Homo sapiens: one gene and its partners. The protein of the gene in region 2 purifies or fractionates together with the protein of the main gene of each other region. This does not show direct contact. Each region holds a gene or a part of one and is shown on either strand. Other genes may lie near its edges.

Region 1 (3,654 bases), on a different chromosome or scaffold from region 2:
TTTAAAAAAAATGTTTTTGTTCATAATCCTAACATGGTCTCCTATTCACAAACCTGTTAGTGTCCCAAATAATGACATTTCCATCAAATCCTGATGTTACTAAGAGTCTTGTATTAGTATCATATTCGATGTTCTTCACCCAGCTAGTGTGACCATGTAAAGTGCATACTTTGGTGTTCAATTTTCTCAGATCCCATAGTGCTATTGTAGTGTCATCAGAGCAGGTAGCAAACAGCCGGTTATCAAGAAATCTATAAAAGCAGAAAAACAAAACCCTGGTTCATTTAATCTCTTTTTAAAGGAAAATTGATTTGAGAAACAGTCACTATATTACCTAGTCAAGAAAGAAAGAAAAAAAGGACTACACACTCACTATGTAAACCCAATGACTGATATACTATAAAAAGTATACTTTGCATAATCACAGAGCCAGGATACTATGATTTAATGACAGTCATATTGCAATTGGATCCATTTGCTTTAAATTACTGATTTTTATTTGAAATTGGAAATAGGGGTAAGTGTTTGGAAAACAGTGACAGAAGGGAAAAAAAGAACTTCAGAATCTCTATAGGAAACAAAAATGATGAGAGAGAATTTAATAGGCGATAGAGGAAGTTTTGAAGACTTGATTGCCGAGAGGGACACATTACACATAATCAAAATCATGAGAAATATTTGCTCTGCTACAAGGAACATCTTTTTCTATTTAGAACACAGTTACATACAAAAATTGCTATAAAATTGCCATTATTTTAAATCTTTTAACTGAAAGGTATTTCCCAAATAATCTCTTAGCAACATTTTATTAGGACCAATCAAGAAAATTACAAAATAGGCTTAAAATACTCTATAATTCAGACTTTTTATTATTTTACACTAACTTCTCAATCCTTAGTGAGAATATATTTAATACAAATACTTAAAAAATAAACTACTATTCACACTTGAATTTTTGCTTAATTTAACATTAGGATGCTTTCTGTAATACATGCTGTTATCCTAATCTCTTACAGAAGAAATGAATTCTGGTGCTTCTTCTAAGATAAATTTACATATAATTGTCAGAAATCAACCTCAATATCCACAAACACCATAACGACCTTCCTAAAATTGATCACGGTTTTCAAATACCAGGCGTTTACACAGGTTGTTTCTGCTAGGTGAAACAACCTTCCTCCTGCCCCTGGATCTGGCTAATTCTTGCTTTCTTTTTAATACCATCATGTGTCACTTAATGATGGAATACATTCTGAGAAATGTGTCCTTAGGTGATTTTGTTGTTGTGTGAACATCATAGAATGAACTTACACAAACCTAGATGGTACACACTGAGGTTATATGGTATATATGGTATATAGCCTATCACTCATAGGCTACAAATGTGCACAGCATGTTACCATACTAAATACTGTAGGCAACTGTAACACAATCGTAAGTATTTGTATATTGAAAGATAGAAAAAATACAGTAAAAGTACTGTATAAAAGATTTAAAATGTTACGCCTGTATAGGGCACTTACCATGAATGGAGCTTGCAGGCGTGGGAGTTGCTCTGGGTGAGTCAGTGAGTGAGGGGTGAGTCAGTGTGAAGGCCTAGGGCATTACTGTCCATTACTGTAGACATTATAAAGACTGTACACTTAGGCTACACTAAATTAATTTAAAAATTTTTCATCAGTAATAAATTAACCTTCGATTACTATAACTTTTTTTACTTCATGAATTTTTAATTTTTTAAACTTTTGACTCTTTTGTAATAACAGCTTAAACACAAACACATTGTACAACTGTACAAAAATATTTTCTTTCTTTATAGCCTTATTTTATTAACTTTTTTCTATTAAAATGTTTACTTTTTAAACTTTTTTGTTAAAAACAAAGACACACATTAGCCTAGTTCTACACAGGGTAAAAATCATCAATATCACTGTCTTCCATCTCCACATCTTGCCCCACTGGAAGGCCTCCAGGGGCAATAACAGGAACAGAGCTGTCATCTCCTGATAACAATGGCTTCTCCTGGAATACCTCCTGAAGAACCTCCCTGAGGCTGTTTTACAGTTTAATTTTTTTTTAAGTAGGAGTACATTCTAAAATAACAATAATAAGTATAACATAGTAAGTATTAGGCAATAGGAATTTTTCAGCTCCATTATAATCTTCTGGAACCACTGTTGTATATGGTGTCACTCACTGAAATGTTGTTATGTGGCATATAACTGTATTCAGCTGTTATGCCCTCCAGGAAGCCTTCCTTGTTTAACCAGCCTGGTAGACCTACCAATTCTCTGAGCTCCCAAAGCATTCTGGGAGCTTCTATCATAATACTTAATATTATACTGTAAGGAACAACTTTACTGTAAACTCCCTGAAGACAGAAGGAACCTGTCTGCCTAGGGTCATGGTTAGATCTGCAGTATACAATACACATGGTGCCAGACACATATGCACTCAACAAATACTTACAAAATAAATGAAAGAGAAGTTCACTGCCTAGCAGAAAAGACACTGTAAGTACATAATTACACGAAATAATTGTGTGGAATAAGCAAAGAGGGTGGCTGGGAAAGACTTCATGATGTTATCATTTGAACTGAATAAAAGATGAGCAGGAACTCCCTAAGTGGTCAGGGTTACTAAGCAAAGATACACAGGCATGTGAGCGGATGGTGCCCTCTGAGAAGCAGCAGTTAGGAGTGCTGTGTGTGGGAAAGTAGAGATGACTAGGGAATACATTATGGATTTATTCTATGGTGATTACCAGTAACTATTTTTTAATTATAAAAATACATTTCCTGGCCAAGCGTGGTAGCTCATACCTATAATCCCAACATTTTGGAAGGCCAAGATGGATGGATCACTTGAGCTCAGGAGTTTGAGACCAGCCTGGGCAACATGACGAAACCCCATCTCTTATTTTAAAAATAACGATAACAAAAAACATTTCTACTGAAAATATTTTTAATGAAAAAAAATCGGCTGGGCGCAGTGGCTCACGCCTGTAATCCCAGCACTTTGAGAGGCTGAGGCGGGTGGATCACAAGGTCAGGAGTTCAAGACCAGCCTGGCCGAGATGGTGAAACCCTGTCTCTACTAAAAATACAAAAAAAATTAGCTGGGCATGGTGGCGGGCGCCTGTAATCCCAGCTACTCGGAGGCTGAGGCAGAGGCAGAGAATTGCTTGAACCCGGGAGGCGGATGTTGCAGTGAGCTGAGATCGTGCCACTGCACTCCAGCTGGGGCACAGAGCAAGATTCCGTCTCAAAAAAAAGAAAAAGAAAAAAAAAATCCATCACCAAAAATAACCACTTTATTGATGTTTAGCTTAATTTCTGTTTTAAACCTAATATTATCTCAAAAACATATTGCCATTATTAAAGGTTTATTAACAAAATCATGTTTAATGGCTGAATAGTGTTCACTGTATGAAGAACTGAAACCTTTTTTCTTTTTAATTTTTTTTTTTTTGGAGACAGAGTCACGCTTTATCCCCCAGGTGCTCACTGCAACCTCTACCTCCTACATTCAAGTGATTCTCATGCCTCAGCCTCCAGAGTAGCTGGGATTACAGGTGCCCGCTGCGATGCCCAGCTAATTTTTGTATTTTTAGTAGAGACAGGTTTTGTCAGGTTGGCCAGGCTGGTCACAAAC
Region 2 (3,654 bases):
ATTGATAACTTCCTAATATAATTATTGATAACTTCCTAATATATTCCGCAGCCCAGGTTTTTTTTTTTTTAAAGATCTCCTTATAATCACAATCTCCTTACAAATTGGTATAGAAAAAAGTAGATTAGGTTCTAATTTTGGCTGAGATTAGGTACCTGATCTTATTAGGGCTTGATTTCCTCATCGGCAAGCGTAAAGGTGAATGATACAATCTTTTAGTCACTTTCAACTCTCAAAATCTTATTCCATCCCATATCCAGTTTAATACCCAAGCCCATGTCATCTCTCCTCTAAAACAATCAGGAAAATGAGTACTTCAAAATTCCTCCTCCCTCTTGTGATTCTTTACTCTAGAATCTTAGTGCTTCTCCATTTAAATTGCATCCCATCAAACCAATGCATACTGCTGGCCTATGATGAGCCCAGACCGGCAAGGAAGCTTTACTTCACACAGGAGAAAACTACCTTATATCCTCCAACACCTTCAAAAAAAAGCTCCCCGCAACTGCCCAATATTCCAGCTTCTAGGTTACTATCCAGCAGGAAGGGAATAGAAAGCACTGGAATCTCCCTTACCTGCTGGTCCGAATGAGCGATGACAAGGTTGTTGGTATTGGGGGCAATAGCCATAGCAGTCACTGGGAAATTGTAAGCAGGCACCGTGCAGTGAAGCTGGGAACAAATAACAGACACAAGTGGCAACTCTAAGTGACACTTTTCCTCAGCAAAGATTGAATGGTCTAGGTCAGGGGTTTAAATACTGCTCCTCATAATTCAAAAGGGTTCTAGGGAAGTTCCAAAAATTTCAGGCATTTCCCCAACCAATGAACTTTCATTTCTTTTTCTTCTCTTTTTTTTTTTTTTGAGATGGAGTTTCGCTCTTGTCACCCAGGCTGGAGTGCAGTGGCGTGATAATCAGCTCACTGCAACCTCTGCCTCCCAGGTTCAAGTGATTCTCCTGCCTCAGCCTCCCAAGTAGCTGGGATTACAGGCGCCTACCACCACACCCGGCTAATTTTTTGTTTTTCTTTTTTTTTTTTTTTGAGATGGAGTTTCACTCTTTCTCCCAGGCTGGAGTGCAATGGCATGATCTTGACTCACTGCAACCTCCACCTTCCGGTTTCAAGTGATTCTCCTGCCTCAGCCTCCCGAGCAGCTGGGATTACAGGCACCCACCACCATGCCTGGCTAATTTTTGTATTTTTAGTAGAGACGGGGTTTCACCATGTTGGCCAGGCTGGTCTCAAACTCCTGACCTCAGGTGATCCACCCACCTTGGTCTCCCAAAGTGTTGGGATTATAGGCGTGAACCACTGCACCTGGCTTAATTTTTGTATTTTTAGTAGAAACGGGGTCTCACTATGTTGGCCGGGCTGGTTTTGAACTTCTGACCTCATGATCCACCCACCTCGGCCTCCCAAAGTGCTGGGATTACAGGCGTAAGCCACCGCACCAGTCCTCATTTTCTTAAAAAAATACCTATTGGTTGGCCGGGCGCAGTGGCTCATGCCTATAATCCCAGCACTTTGGGAGGCCAAGGCAGGCGGATCACGAGGTCAGGAGTTTGAGACCAGCCTGGCCAACATGGTGAAACCCCATCTCTACCAAAAATTAAAAAAATTAGCTGGGTGTGGTGGCGTGCACCTGTAATCCCAGCTACTCAGGAGGGTGAGGCAGGAGAATCACTTGAACCTAGGAGGCGGAGGTTGCAGTGAGCAGAGACTGCGCCACCACACTCCAGCCTGGGCAACAGTGCAAGACTCAATCTCAAAAAAAAAACAAAAGGCCTATTGGCTGGGCGCAGTGGCTCACACCTGTAACTACAGCACTTCGGAAGGGCCAGGGCGGGAGGAACGCTTGAGTCCAGGAGTTCAAGACCAGCCTGGGCAACACAGCAAAACCTCATCTCTACTAAAAAAAAAGATTAGCTAGGTGTGGTGGGACTCGCCTGTAGTCCCAGCTACTCAGGACACTGAGGTGGAAGGATCGCTTGAGCAGAGAGGTCAAGGCTGCAGTGAGCTGTGACTGTGCCACTGCACTCAGTCTGGGTGACAGAGTGAAACCCTGTCTCAAAAAAATAAAAAGCTTATTTAACCGCGTACAAAACTAACAGCGTTTGTGGAGAACTGAGAGTAAAGCCTTTCCCTCTGAGTAAATCCATCTGTACAAACTGCTTATAAATGTGTCATTGAATAGGGAGTCTACAGCTCTACACCAGGTTTAAAATAAATAAATGCCTAGGCATGGATTTTTATGTACAATTGCAAAGCATGTGCACGCTACACACAAACACTCTTTAAATGCCAGGCAAGGCTCAAAGACAAGTGCTCAGTACATGCTCCTACCATAATGCAACAAAGGTTACACTATGCAGTTAACAGGTAAACCCATTAAGTGTTGCAGTTTGATGTTATTCTATACACTTTTAATGCTTATTCCAAGTTTTGGGTAGTTCGAATCTGATTCTTATAATGAAGATGAGGACTTGTAAGGGATCACTAATGACTCAATTTATGACTGACAGCGTCATTACTGATTAGTGAAAAATGTTTTCCCAGTATTCCTTTTTCGAAGTTTTGATTATGTTTACCTTGAGATTACAAGGCAAGCCATGAAAGGAACTCTTATTATCTGCAACTATTTGTCTGTGTATATCAGAATTTTCCTCCCGAAAATACAGAAAGAACCTGGATGTGTTTACATCACCCACAGATCATTAATTTCAAATTTCCAGGTATGAATGGGTTTCACTGTTTCCATTAGCTGCTTTTAATGTTACACAGTATAGCTTCCGGGTTCCATAAAAATAAAACAGGATTCCAAACCTGGAAAAATTATTAGTTAAAAAGAAAAAAGTCTGGCCAGGCGCGGTGGCTCATGCCTGTAATCCTAGCACTTTGGGAGGCCGAGGTGGGCGGATTGCCTGAGCTCAGGAGTTCAAGGTCAGCCTGAGCAACACGGTGAAACCCTGTCTCTATTAAAATACAAAAATTAGCCAGGTGTGGAGGCACACACCTGTAATCCCAGCTACTCAGGAGGCTGAGACAGGAGAATCATTTGAACCCGGGAGGCTGAGGTTGCAGTGAGCCGAGATCGCGCCACTGCACTCTAGCCTGGGTGACAGAGTAAGACTTTGTCTCAAAAAAAAAAAAAAAAGAAAAGAAAAGAAAATAAAAAGAAAAAAGTCTAATAAATTTCCAGGTCATGCCAATCTGCCTTGAATCTTGTAACTGCAGGGTGAACTGGCTCCTGTACAATGATTCAAACTGCTGCCATGAAACCCTATGCTCACCTTTAGCTGTTTTACGTTGTAGACATGGACTCCAGCACTGGTACCTGATGCAGCTAGCCAATTCCCATCTGGACTGACTGCCAAAAGACACATGGCCTCCACTGTTCCTGTGAGGACAAAACAGTTACATCTCTGAATTCACACAGTGTCCACAGCCAGACCTGCCCTGGAGATGATGGCAAAAGCCAAGGAGACCATTAGAGTTTTAAATCACTGCCAGGATAATTTGCTGATCACTGTGCAAATTACTTCTAGATGTTAATGTTTCTACTTTTTTCATCTACTTATTTAACCATCCCGCCTGTAAAGAAGGTCCAGAGAGATAAAACAGAAGTTATTACTTCCTCAGGCCTAAGACACTG
Region 3 (3,654 bases), on a different chromosome or scaffold from region 2:
ATGAAACTATCAAATAAATTGCCTATCTCATCTGTCTGAATACTGACTAAATCATCTTACCATATATGAAGGTTTCCACCAAAATCTCCAGTAGCTAAATATCTCTGCTGTAAAGATGTTGCACCAAATGTTCCACATTTAATAGGTTTGGCCTTTTCAATCTTCATAGAAGGGAGGAAGAGAGGATATATTATTTATGTAAGCAGATATTTATAATCTATTAATATCATATTTATGGCTCTATTATGGCATTTAAATAAGACAATATAAAAGGCAATTAAAACATCTTCTGATGAAAATAATCTTGCTTTTTCCTTTACTCATTTTTCTTTAAAATATGTAACTGTCAAAAAGAAAAAGTGTTAATTTGCCTTTCCTCTCCTCTCACTAATGAGACATTCAAATGCTGACAGCTCTACAATCTCTATTGCAAATATGAAAGTTTCAGCATTTCATGTGATATTCTTTAAGATCCTCAGCAGAAATGAGAACATAATGAAGATATTATCTTTCCAGATGGTTATGGGAACAAAAATGTTATGTGTCTCTTATAGTTTTCCCTGCAGAACCCTATAAACTAAAGATGTTTATGTCCCACTTTCTCTGGGGCCTTTTCAATGCAGAGAGATTTATAAACTTGTGTGTACCAAGGCGCTACTATTAGTATGGATCAGCCAATCTTTTGAGGTTTCTTTACTTTAAAAGGCTACTGCACCAAGTATTGTATATAGTCACATTAGTAAAACAATCACATACGAATATATTATTTAACGTATGGGGTTTATGGAAATCAGGTGAAGAAGACTATGTAGCCAAAAAGGTCCTTGGAAAGGATCTAACACAATACCCTCCTGTCATAAAAGGAGACCAAAGCATAGGGCTGTACAGATTTGCCGAACTCATACAACATTCAACATTTAATGGTTTCTACTACATGCAAGTCACTGAAGTAGGCAAAAGAGGATACAAAGATGAATGAGATTGGCCAGTCCCTCAAAAAGCTAACAACTCAAATATCAGTTCTTATCTGGTTCCTCCAAAATATACATATTCGTTATACTACTCCTATGCCTCCCTGGGTCTTCTATTCACCTTCTTTTACTTCCTGATGTTTCTGATTTCTCCATGGCCCCTCCCGCCGCCAACTCTACCTGCCCAGGTCACTGAAGTCCCTCCTACAGTCTAACTGCTTTTCCTGCTGCCTTGGCTCCCGAGATCTCCGGAATCTGGAATTAGATGAGGCCACTGATATCTGTCCCACATCACACTCTTGCCATATAACACTTCCCACTGACTGTCAGCCTCAATGGGGCAAAACTATTCCTCTTGGTCTCTAACAATTTTTACATTTTTAAATTCTTAATGTTTATAAAAGTAATACCTGCTCCCTATAAAAATTCAAACAAAACAAAAGGATGGAAGGAAAAAGTGAGTCCCTTTAACACTCTCCAGAAGTAATCCCCACCCTTCTAGGCCTTCTACGCATTTACAAACACACATGGTTTTGTTTCAATACAAGGCAGATCATGGTACACTGTCCTTTGATGTGTTTCACTTAACAATACATCTGGATAAACTTTATTCCTTTTGCAGTGTTCTCCAGTTTCCAGGACATCTCCCCTTGTAACTCTTCAGTTCTCTTCATCCCTCCCAGGTTGGCCTGTTTCAAATAATTTTAAAAATAATTTCCCTGCCACTTTCAATGTTTATCCAGGCATTTCTATATAGGGTATATTATCCATATAAGGTATACATAGCAATTTTCACGAATAAAATAGAAGTCACTTAACACAAACTATAACAACTTTTTTTCTCTGATTCAAAGGTTACCATTATATGGTATAGGGCTTTGGAAACTCCCAGACTGTTGAACTTTCCTATTGTTTGTGATCTAGATAAATTGGAGTTACTACGTGGCCAAGTCTAAAAGCACTCATACCTTCCTCAGAATTGTCTAGTAAACGAAATCAGCCACGTACAGTAACATGTTTGTAAAAGACCCTATTGATGAGAAGCATGGAACCACAGAATGTTTCTCTTTTTAATGCACAAGTGGACTGAGATGGCATCAGTTATTCACTGCCGCAGAAAATTAATATTCATTTATTCCCATTTTTTCCCAATTTTATGAAAAAGAGTATCTGAAAATGGGGCAACACAGAGGATCAAAATTTTGTCAACAAAGCACATGGTTTCTAACTGCAGGCAATTTATGTTTTCCTCACCATTCCCCTCTCCTCAAATAAAAGTACCTGAAATAATATATTAACAGTGGTAAAGCACTTAATCACTATTAGGGCACAATTTCTATGGTGAAATTAATTCTGAGTTCCAACCTATGCCAACTGGTGAGACGGCTATCCACTCTTTCCTCCCCTTGGTCTCACACTGAACCTGGGTCTTGCCAGCTCTAAGCCACTGATAATGGCTTCCATGTTCTGAGGCAGAGGGTGGAAGCAGACCCTCTGAGGTAAGAAGCTGGTGGTCCTCATGCACAGCAATGTGGTTCCAGGAGACAGGGGATTAGAAGCTGTGAAGAACTTGCATCATCTATTGACCCAATTCTCTGGGAACATTTTTCTCAGAGAAGCACTGGGAAGACTGGTCTCCCATTTTCTTCCCACCAACCAGCTAAAGCATTCTGCTTCCCAGAATTCCACCGCTGTCCCCTCAAACCTCTGATGAGGGTTTCTGTGATTCCTAGGCCATGGAAGAGGTAAAAACTAACCTACACTCTTTGGTTCCCTACAGTCTTCTAAAATTTTACTGCTGGATAAAAATAAAAAACTGGAAGCAAAAACTTTCCTCCCTGTTATTCTTTTACCCAACTTTCACTTTTAGACCCTTTAGACTAGAGAATCTCAAACTATACTCCTGGAACACACTGATCTTCTGTTACTAACATAATACATTAATCAGAAAATTCACCAAGAACAAAAGCTGATGCATGTGTTGTTTTCAGATTTTAAAGTTTTTTTAAAAATAATTTTCTTAGCTTGCCTGGTAGAAAATACTAGCAAATGAACACCAGTTAAAAAAACTTGGACTGTGTGCAGTGGCTCACGCCTATAATATCAGCACTTTGGGAGGCTGAGGCAGGCGGATCACCTGAGGTCAGGAGTTCAAGACCAGCCTGGCCAAAATGGTGAAACCCCCTCTCTACTAAAAATACAAAAATTAGCCAGGCGTGGTGGTGGATGCCTGTAATTCCAGCTACTGGGGAGGCTGAGGCAGGAGAACTGCTTGAACCCAGAGGGCGGAGGCTGCAGTGAGCCAAGATCACACCACCGCACTCCAGCCTGGGCGACAGAGAGAGACTCCGTCTCAAAAAATAAAATAAAATAAAAAAATAAAAATAAAAATAAAACCTTGGAAGTGAAGACTTAAAAACTGTGTGGTTACTTGTGATGTAAAAATCGGAATCTCTATCTATTTATCTATCTCTATATATAGTCAGATTTTTCTGCTGAAAATCTCTTCCCTGTGCAGAGATAGAACTGACTACTCCAATATTTTATGGTGTTCCAAAAACAGCACTGCAATGTGCAGATTCTTTGACACCTGCACATGTCTGAGAATTGCTACCTTCAAAGGAAAGAAACCAAACTGACAACCAGTCTACACAATAAGCTCTATACATTTTCACAGTTGTCA

Evidence for each region.
Region 1: the proteins of UTP4 (region 2) and DCAF10 purify together in Homo sapiens (co-immunoprecipitation; one large-scale study listed by IntAct). This does not show direct contact.
Region 3: the proteins of UTP4 (region 2) and DNAAF10 purify together in Homo sapiens (co-immunoprecipitation; one large-scale study listed by IntAct). This does not show direct contact.

The regions. Positions count from the first base shown.
Region 1 is NC_000009.12:37,838,686-37,842,339, reverse strand, and holds part of DCAF10 (DDB1- and CUL4-associated factor 10), read right to left. Parts: intron 252-3,654; coding exon 54-251; intron 1-53. UniProt on the Homo sapiens protein: May function as a substrate receptor for CUL4-DDB1 E3 ubiquitin-protein ligase complex.
Region 2 is NC_000016.10:69,160,101-69,163,754, reverse strand, and holds part of UTP4 (U3 small nucleolar RNA-associated protein 4 homolog), read right to left. Parts: intron 3,400-3,654; coding exon 3,293-3,399; intron 673-3,292; coding exon 577-672; intron 1-576. UniProt on the Homo sapiens protein: Ribosome biogenesis factor. Involved in nucleolar processing of pre-18S ribosomal RNA. Part of the small subunit (SSU) processome, first precursor of the small eukaryotic ribosomal subunit.
Region 3 is NC_000002.12:68,147,407-68,151,060, forward strand, and holds part of DNAAF10 (dynein axonemal assembly factor 10), read right to left. Parts: intron 162-3,654; coding exon 61-161; intron 1-60. UniProt on the Homo sapiens protein: Key assembly factor specifically required for the stability of axonemal dynein heavy chains in cytoplasm.